3 linked regions of the Homo sapiens genome follow. The protein of the gene in region 2 interacts with the protein of the main gene of each other region in a biochemical or structural test. Each region holds a gene or a part of one and is shown on either strand. Other genes may lie near its edges.

What was found.
Region 1: of the proteins of HNF4A (region 2) and PRKACA, one has a biochemical effect on the other in vitro, tested with the Homo sapiens proteins (one study listed by BioGRID).
Region 3: the proteins of HNF4A (region 2) and MED24 form a complex in vitro, tested with the Homo sapiens proteins (one study listed by BioGRID).

Annotation. Positions count from the first base shown.
Region 1 is NC_000019.10:14,107,763-14,111,413, forward strand, and holds part of PRKACA (cAMP-dependent protein kinase catalytic subunit alpha), read right to left. Parts: intron 629-3,651; exon of another isoform or gene 223-628; coding exon of another isoform or gene 1-222.
Region 2 is NC_000020.11:44,400,605-44,404,255, reverse strand, and holds part of HNF4A (hepatocyte nuclear factor 4-alpha), read right to left. Parts: exon of another isoform or gene 2,884-3,651; coding exon of another isoform or gene 2,769-2,883; intron 1,703-2,768; coding exon of another isoform or gene 1,612-1,702; intron 1-1,611. UniProt on the Homo sapiens protein: Transcriptional regulator which controls the expression of hepatic genes during the transition of endodermal cells to hepatic progenitor cells, facilitating the recruitment of RNA pol II to the promoters of target genes. Activates the transcription of CYP2C38.
Region 3 is NC_000017.11:40,018,498-40,021,051, forward strand, and holds the end of MED24 (mediator of RNA polymerase II transcription subunit 24), read right to left. Parts: intron 1,857-2,554; coding exon 1,776-1,856; intron 1,437-1,775; coding exon 1,288-1,436; intron 1,149-1,287; coding exon 1,032-1,148; 3' UTR 607-1,031; downstream 1-606. UniProt on the Homo sapiens protein: Component of the Mediator complex, a coactivator involved in the regulated transcription of nearly all RNA polymerase II-dependent genes.

The sequences.
Region 1 (3,651 bases), on a different chromosome or scaffold from region 2:
TTTGGCTGTTCCTCTGGCCCCTTCTCTGGGGAGGCCGGGCCTGGGATGGAGGCCTCGGGGGCTCGGGTAGCAGGTGCCCTTGGGGGGCTCAGCTGTCACCTTGGCCCCCAGCTGGCCCTGTTCCTCTCCGTGGCAATCGCAAGGGCATTGCTCCAGAGCTGGTTCAAGGGAAGTCTCGCCCGATGCCCACTCCTCGGCCCCATGGTATCCCAAGGTGAACATCACCGCCTGGCTAATGTTGAAACTTCCCCGGCAGACCCTGTGCCGGCTGCTGTCTACACTGTCTCATCTGACTCACTCGGCAACCTGCCTTGTATCCATTGTCTCCACTTAACAACCCAGGAAACAGGCTTGAAAACAGTCATTCTCGTCTCTGCTGAGACACAGCCCAGCAAAGTGGCTAAGGGCCAGGACTTGGGGTCAAGATCCAGTTCAGAGCCCAGCCTGGTCTCTGATGAACTCTGTGACTTTGGGTAACTGATCTCACCTCTCTAGGCCTCAGTTTTCCTCATCTGTAAAGTGGGGTGGTTTTGAGGAATGAATGAGTTCATCTTGACAAAGGGAGTTGAACAGTGGCCCCGTGTGATGATAGTGCCAGATAAATGTCAGCTATTATTATTTTTTATTTATCTATCTATTGACTGATTGATTGATTGATTGATTGAGACGGAGTCTCCCTCTGTCGCCCAGGCTGGAATGCAGTGGCGCAATCTCCGCTCACTGCAAGCTCCGCCTCCCGTGCTCACGCCATTCTCCTGCCTCAGCCTCCTGAGTAGCTGGGACTACAGACGCCTGCCACCACGCCCAGAGAATTTTTTGTATTTTTTTTAGTGGAGACGGGGTTTCACCGTGTTAGCCAGGATGGTCTCGATCTCCTGACCTCGTGATCCACCCGCCTCGGCCTCCCAAAGTGCTGGGATTACAGGCGTGAGCCACCATGCCCGGCCAATTTATTTTTTTTAATTATTATTATTTTTTTTTTTGAGATGGAGTCCCACTTTGTTGCCCAGGCTGGAGTGCAGTGGCACAATCTCAGCTCACTGCAACCTCCGCCTCCCAGGTTCAGATGATTCTCCTGCCTCAGCCTCCTGAGTAGCTGGGATTACAGACACCTGCCACCACGCCCAGCTAATTTTGGTATGTTTAGTAGAGACAGGGTTTTGCCATGTTGGCTAGGCTGGTCTCGAACTCCTGACCTCAGGTGATCTGCCCACCTTGGCCTCCCAAAGTGCTGGGATTACAGGCATGAGCCACCGTGCCCAGCCTATTATTTTCTAAATTGAGGTATAAAATATGGGGAGAGAGGCTGGGTGAGGTGGCTGACGTCTGTAATCCCAGCACTCTGGGAGGCCAAGGTGGGTGGATCACAAGGTCAGGAGTTCGAGACCAGCCTGGCCAACATGGCGAAACCCCATCTCTACTAAAAATAAAAAAATGAGGCCAGGCACGGTGGGTCACACCTATAATCCCAGCACTTTGGGAGGCCAAGGCGGGTAGATCACTTGAGGTCAGGAGTTCAAGACCAGCGTGGTCAACATGGTAAAACCCCGTTTCTACTAAAAGTACAAAAAAATCAGCCGGGCATGGTGGCAGGAGAATCGCTTCGACCCGGGAGGCAGAAGTTGCAGTGAGCTGAGATCATGCCATTGCACTCCAGCCTAGGCGACGGGGCGAGACTCTGTCTCCAAAACAAAACAAAAAAATTAGCCAGGCGTGGTGGTGATGTGTGCCTGTAATCCTAGCTACCTGGGAGGCTGAGGCAGGAGAATTGCTTGAATCCGGGAGACTGAGGTTGCAGTGAGCCGAGATTGCACCACTGCACTCCAGCCTGGGTGACAGAGCAAGACTCGTCTAAGAAAAAAAAAAGAAAAAAGAAAAGAAAATATGGGGAGCGATCGGGCATGGTGGCTCACGTCTATAATCCCAGCACTTTGGGAGGCCGAGGCAGGCAGATCACTTGAGGTCAGGAGTTTGAAACCAGCCTGGCCAACATGGTGAAACCCCGTCTCTACTAAAAATACAAAAATTAGCTGGGCACGGTGGCGCATGCCTGTAATCCCAGCTATTTGGGAGGCTGGGGCAGGAAAATCTCTTGAACTTGGGAGGCAGAGGTTACAGTGAGCTGAGATCATGCCACTGCACTCCAGCCTAGGCGACAGAGTGAGACTCTGTCTCAAAAAAAAAAAAAAAAAAAAAAAAAAAAATATATATATATATATATATATATATATATATATACACACACACACACACACACATAGGGAGAGCCGGGAACGGTGGCTCATGCCTGTAATCCCAGTGCTTTAGAAGGCCGAGGTTGGAGGATCGCTTGAGGCCTGGAATTAGAGACCAGCCTTGGCAACATAGCAAGACCCAATCTCTACAAAAAATAAAACAATTAAAAAATTAGCTGAGCATAGTGGCCCATGCCCGCAGTTTCAGCTAAGCAGGAGGCTGAGGCAGGAAGATTGCTTAAAGCCCAGGAGATTGAGGTTGCAGTGAGCTATGATCACACCACTACACTCCAGCCTGAGCAAGAGTGAGACTCTTTCTCAAAAAAATAATAATACTCTGGGAGGCCGAGTTGGGGGGATTGCTTGAATACAGGAATTCGAGACCAGCCTGGACAACATCAAAACCCTCTACAAAAAATAAAAACATTAGCCAGGTGTGGTGGTATGCACCTGTAGTCCCAGCTACTCAGGAGGCAGAGGTGGGAGGATTGTTCAAGCCCGGGACATAGAGCCTGCAGTGAGCCGTGACTGAGCCATTACACTGCAGGCTGGGTGACAGAGTGAGGCCCTGTCTCAAAAAAAAAAGTAATAATAAAAAAACCCCAAAAACAAATATAGGAGATACACTGAGTGCTCAAATCTTAAATGCGCAGCCTGACAGATTCTTGCATTATGGACTTGTCCTTTTAACCACCACCTAGGGCTACAAGGGACCAGCCCCTTGCTGAGTATTTTCTATGCTTCGTTCTCACCCTGTGGGGTGGGAGCTGCTGTTATTCCCACTGTACAGAGGAGAAGACTGATCAGGTCTGAGGTCACTTGCCTGCCCCCACATCCCATGAGATTAACTACTTCACTGCCAACTCAGCCATTGGTTTCAGTGCTGAGTCCAGTGCACCAGGGTGGCCAATGTGGACAGAGCTGCCTTCAACCCCCTGATGTTCCTGGGTTTGCTGCCACCGAGGGGCCCTGTACACTTGCCCTTTGGCATTGCTGGTTATCTGCCTGCCAGTAATCCCACATGGCCTTGTGGGGAGCCACCCCCACTACCTGTCTCCAGAGCTTTCCCTCAGCATTCAGAGAGAAGAGCCCTCATGGAGCTAGAAAGTGGTAGATGGTGGCTGGGTGCAGTGGCTCACGCCTGTAATCCCAGCACTTTGGGAGGCTGAGACAGGCAGATCACCTGAGGTTGGGAGTTTGAGACCAGCCTGACCAACATGGAGAAACCCTGTCTCTACTAAAAATACAAAATTAGCTGGGCGTGGTGGCACATGCCTGTAATCCCAGCTACTCAGGAGGCTGAGGCAGGAGAATTGCTTGAACCCGGGAGGCAGAGGTTGCAGTGGGCTCAGATCGCGCCATTGCACTCCAGCCTGGACAACAAGAGTGAAACTCTGTCTCAAAAAAAAAAAAAAGA
Region 2 (3,651 bases):
ATATTCCCCTAGGTTCGTTATGGGGATTCGGTGAATTCTCATATGTGTATGTGAAGTGCTTGGCACATAGTAAGCACTATATCAGTGTTCATGAAATAAAAACTTTTCCACATAGGAAAACTCTCGGAGCAGAGGACTTCCAGGCTCCTTGCACAAGCAGACACTGCCGCATCTCATTTCTGCCATCGCAGACTCCCAGGTGTCCCCAGGAGTGCAGCCCCCTCCACTTGGTGAATTATTCCTGGAGATGGGGATAATTGTTAAGCCACGTGGGTGCCCTTTCTCCCTCGGCCTCTCCTCCCCCGACCCCCGGGGAGAGCTGACCCCCACAGCTCCTGGCCATTCAGCAGGAGGCTGGGGAAGTAGCTCCCACCTCTGAGGCAGGATGGGCTGGGGGCTGTCAGCTCTATCATCTCCCCTCTGAGGTCAGCCGAGCACCTCTATTCCACAGATGAGGACACTGAGGCTTAGAGAGGAAAAGTGGCTTCCTGGTGTCATCGCACTGCTTCCCGTGAAGCAGAGCCATGGGTTTATGGTCCAGGCTTGCTGGGCTACTCCAGCCAGTGCCACACATGTTGAGGTGTCTGCTGGGCCTCTAATGAACAAGGAGCCACCCAGGGCTGCTGCTCCATTGGGGTGGGGAGAGGACGGGGGAGAAATATCCTTGGAGCCTTTCAGACACCAGCCCAGGATGTACTCAAAACACTTCAGAGGACAACTTCACATAACCCCAATTCAGACCACTTCAAACTCCAGTGAGGAATGTGGGGACCCTGCTTACAGATGCTCAGAGCCCTTGAGATGACCCATGGTGGGGCCAGGCCCTTTACCAGGGCTAAGCACCCAGGCACCTCATCTTATTTATCCTCTGGCCAGCCCTGGGAGACAGACACTATTATTTATTCCCATTTTATAGGTGAGGAAACTGAGGCTCAGAGAGGAAATTGCCTTGCCACATTCACACAGGTTGGAAGGATCTATGCCGGATTTGAGCCCAGATCTTTCTGGTTCCAGAGCTGGAGGTGGTCTTGTCTTTGGGACTCCCAGTTCAGGGGCTTGGCCTCTGCCTCAGGAGCACACAGTTCCTGGGCTTGGAAAAAGTGATGGGGGCGGGGAGCAGCCCAGGGCAGGGCAGTGGTCCTCGTGGGGCCACACAACACTCCACCTAGTGCAGCAGCAGCTTGTTTGCTATCTCTGGTGTGTTTTTGCCTTGCGCTCCTGGCGTGGTCCTCAGACAGGCCTAAAAGCCGTCCAGCCAGCAGGCCTGGGGGAATGAAGCCTGTTTTGTAGAAGATACAGAAGCCAGGATAGGGGAGGTGACATGCCCAAGGTCACACGTGACTGGACGGCAGGGGCAGGTGAGCACCTGCTGAGCTGACAACAAGCAGTGCCCAGCAGCTGCCTCCTCACCCTAGCTGAGCTGACCACAAGATTCCAGACCTCAGCTGGAGCTGCAGCCTCATACTGGCTGAGTGGCTCCAAGACACAGAAGGAAGCAGGGTGGCAGGCTGACCTCAGCCAGCTGCCTGCCCCCTCTCCTCTGAGGCTGGCCTGGGACCGATGGGGCTCTTCCCTCCAGGAGGGGTTTCCGGGCCTCCTCTTTTCCCCTACCTCCCTGTGGAGAACTGTCCACCCCTCCAGATATGCTCCAGTGATGTCGGAGGGGATGCCTCAATCTGGCGAGACGCAGCGGCAACAAAATCTGCTCAGAGACAAACGGACATGTTGCTGATATGAATCTCACTTGGTGAGTGGCAACAACAGAGTCCTGCATTTGGGTCTGTGCAGTCGTGCACACCAGAGACCGCTGACCCCCGCCCGCAGCACAGGGAACTGCATATATACACAGCAGGTACAAATATGGGCACACGACAAAACGCCCATACAGGATAAAGATGCAGGAAGAACAGGGCACTCCAACAGGTCCGCATGCACAAACGCATGTGCTCTATGACCCGCACACACAGCACACATGTACAAACATCCACAGACACAAGTACACACACATACACACTTACATACATAAGCAAGATCAACACGGGCAACTCCTAAGACACAAACACAGACCCACTCAATGAATACAAAGGAAAATAGACCCAGAACTCACACACAGAGACAAATGAACACACATATGCAAATGGGTTCCTGAAGGCATCACCCCACCCATACAACCTACATGGAAACTCACTATCACACACGAACGCACACACAACACACACAGTGCTGAGTTGGCTTCGTAGTTAGCAAAACTTCCCTGAGAGCTCCATTTTCCCTAAGTGCCAATTTCATTTCCCTAGGAAAGTCCCAAAGACACCGAGAAATGCGGTTATGTCTCCAACCACCATCTCCAGGGATACAACATCCCTTGCCGTCTCTCTGAACCTAGGCCCAAGGGGTTCACGAAGGGGCCGTGCTGGGCTGAATCGCTGGAGCTGGGCACCAAGGGGGAGCTCACCATCACGTCACTGTGCCAAGCGCCAAGCAGAGCCACTGTGAGGCAGTGAGGACTGGAAGGGCCTGGGAGGAATAGCCGGGATCGACTTTTGCTGGAAATTGGCCCTTGCAGGCCTCCCTTCACCCAGAATGCCTGTGATCACTGTGCCTGGGCACATGGGCTTCACTTGGCAACACCTGTGCTGGCCTGTAGGACCAACCTACCATTTTGTATCATTCTCCTCCCACCCCAAAGTTGAGTGCCAAAGATCTGCTCCTGGACCCAGGCACACCTGCCCCCACTGGCACACCTGGGCACATCTGCCCCCACCTACCATTGCCCATCGTCAACACCTGCACATTCTCAAATTCCAGGGTGGTGTAGGCTGGGTCCAGTGCAGCACTGTAGTCGGCCATGTCCATGTCGACGAGGGTTTTGGAGAGTCGCATTCTCCCTGCCTCCACGCCGCGGCCACCTGCCCTACCCTGGGCGCCCACCCCGAAGGCCCCCGCCCTCCGCCCTCCCACTGCCTCCTCCCAGTGCCCTCTCTGCCTTCCTTTCAAACCGTCCTCTGGGAAGATCTGCTGGGAGTCTTGGCCTAGCCTCTGTGAAGGGGTGGAGGCTCTGCCGGGGAGGGGTGGGGGTTAATGGTTAATCGGTCCCCCGCCGGTGGATAGGCTGGGCGGGGCTGCAGGGATTTGGCTGTTTGTTGGTTTCTGGCTGACACCCGGGGTGCTAATTACAACTGCTGGGGCCCTAACTCACCGATGTTCAGTTATCAATTGTACAAGGCAGGCATCATGACTCACGGGCACTCATTTGACCCTTGACTCACCCACCCCTCCAAGCCATTGTCACCCCAAGTCAGGCATTCTAACTGATACTATCAGGCACTGACAGCCTACCTCCGAGATCCCCTAATTCAATAACTTCCCAAATCATTGACTTCTACCCTCAATGCTTTTGCAGAGATAAGGCTGCCCCATGGCCCACGATTTAGAAACCTAAATCCCAGGCCCCAGATGCCAATCTTCTGGATCCTTGTTCTGGGAGCTCCCTTCCAGTTCCCCCGCAGTTTCCCGGTTCCCCTGGGAGCAGAATGGACTGGAAGTTTGGGAGGGCCAGATTCACCTCCAATTCCCCGCTCCTGCTCCCTGTGATCCCACCCTGCCCCTCTCCGTCTCCCACAGCTCCCAGTGTTTCTGGCCCAGGCTGGC
Region 3 (2,554 bases), on a different chromosome or scaffold from region 2:
CCACCAGTCCCCAGTCCACTATCTGCCCAAACCTTCTCCTCCTCAGCTCCTCAGTCCCTCCCACCTCCCCTGCCCGTGGCTCCTCGGAAAGCAGGGTCAGAAGTTCCCACTGCCAGCTCGGAGTCATCCATCTAGGGGCTCAGAGATGTGTGAGGCAGGCAAGGAAGGGTTAAAGAAAGGTCCGGCCCCTCATCCCCCCGCCTCCCATCCCCCAGTCCTTTTTTGGAGGCAACAGATCAAATCCCAGGCTAGTCAGAGTGTGGGTGGTGTTGGACCAGGTTCGGGAGACAGCAGAGCAGGCCACCCTGCCCCAGCACTGTGGGGCCCTGAGCCAAAGCCTCTCCCCTTTCAGGGTACAGCTGGCTTTGGGGGAGGGGGCAGCAGGCCAGCCAACTTGGCTCCAAGGAAGGGAAGCTGCTTTCCCCTGGCCCTTCCCCAGCTGAGCAAGCCCACATAGGACCCTGAGCCCTGCCGCCTCTGCTCCTCTTCCTCCTCCTCCTCACCACAGGAGTGAGCCGTTCCCTGGCCACAGCACAGGAGTCCAGGGAGAGGACACTATGCCCTGCCCCGGGTGGCACCAATACCAACAGCACACACAGTCACAAAGGGAGCCACGAGGAGCTTTATTTATACATGAACGAAGGTAGATTTCCCTCACATATTACAAAATACACACAAACACACACACACACACACACACACACACATACACACTTTGCATCTAGAAAGTTCCTCAGAGGTAAGACTACTCCTGGGCTGGGGCGGGCGCACACAGGGGTGACCACTGGGCTTGTGGTCCAGGCTGCTCACTCTCCTCAGGTGCCAGCAGATGGAGAGGAAATTTTGAAAGAAGAAACCGGGAGACATCCTGGAGGTCAGGAGTCAGGAGCGGGGAACTGGAAGCCGCTAGAGGCTCTTGCACCATGTGGAGCGGATGTGAGGCACGATGCCTCATCTTTCCTCACTGCTTCCCTTGGAGGCGCCTGGGGCTGCGCCAGTCCCCAGCCCCCACTGCGGCCATGCCAAGCCCCTCAGAGTGCAGCAATGGCTTTAGCAGCCACCTGGCGGCCCAGGGGCAGGCTGAGGTCCGTGATGGCCAGAACCACCTTGGGGCTGGACATGGCTGACACCTTCACCAGTTCCGACACCTGCCACGGACAGACAGATGCTGCTTGCGGGACGGCTGGTGGTGGGTGTGCTGTCCCAGGGGGAAGGAGGCCCCTCCCTGCTCTAAGGGCTGCCCCGAGGCCCCAGCACCAGCAGGAGAGCCGGGAAGGTGGTACTCACGGTGGTGAAGGGCATGAACTGCAGGACGCTGCCACGGCCACCCTGCTCCAGGCAGTCCACACACTCCTCCATGAACCACTGCACGAACTGGGTGTGGGGGCCAGCGGTGCGAGACCCCAGGATGGAGGAGATGAGCAGGAACAGGTTGGCTGTAGAGAGTGGGGGGAGAGTGACAGGAGGGAGTTCCATGAGAGTGGGTGAGGTCACACTCTGGGAGAAGGTGGGACTGAAAAGGGAAAAGAAACACATGCTGAGCATGTCCCCAAAATGGGGTGTCAGAGAGAGAAAATATAAAAGGCAATTGGGGAGGGGAGGAGGGGGAACTAGACAGGAGCCTGGGGGCCAGGACAGCCAACAATGAGGGGCATGGAGAGGGAAGGGAGGGGCACCGCAAGGCCCCTTCCAGCTGACAAGGTCTCCCAGCCTCCATGAGAAGAGAGACTCGTCCAGCTTAGCCCCAGGTTCGGCAGCAGGGGTGGGGAACTCACCCAGGACTCGGTTCAGAGGGTCCCGCATGTTGACCGTGTGGAGCTGAGAGGCTGAGAGGGAGCTGCTCATGGATCGGTCTGCTGTGGGACGGAGCAGATGGAGCGCTGGGAAACAGCCTGCCGAGTGCAAAAGTGGTGCTCCCCGGGGATGCCCCAACCCGACCTTCACCCATCGGAGGTAACTGGTACATGGAGAGCCCAGAGAAGACCCTGAGATCAAGAGCACAAAGGGAGGCCAGGTACAGTGGCTCACACCTGTAATCCCAGCATTTTGGGAGGCCGAGGCAGGAGGATCGCTTGAGTCCAGGAGTTTGAGACCAGCCTTGGCAACTAGCGAGACCTCATCTCTACAAAAAATACAAAAATTAGCTGGGTGTGGTGCCAACGCCTGTAGTCCCAGCTCCTCGGGAGGCTGAGGCAGACTGCTTGAGCCTAGGAGAACAAGGCTGCAGTGAGCCGAGATGGTGCCACTGCACTCCAGCCTGAGCAACAGAGCAAAACCGTGTCTCAGAAAAACAGGCTGGGCGTGGTGGCTCACGCCTGTAATCCCAGCACTTTGGGAGGCCAAGGCGGGTGGATCATCTGAGTTCAGGAGTTCGAGACCAGCCTGACCAATATGGTGAAACCCCGTCTCTACTAAAAATACAAAAATTAGCCAGGCGTTGTGGCAGGCGCCTGTAGTCCCAGAGACTCAGGAGGCTGAGACAGGAAAATTGCTTAAACCCAGGAGGCGGAGGTTGCAGTAAGCTGAGATCGTGCGACTGCACTCCAGCCTGGGC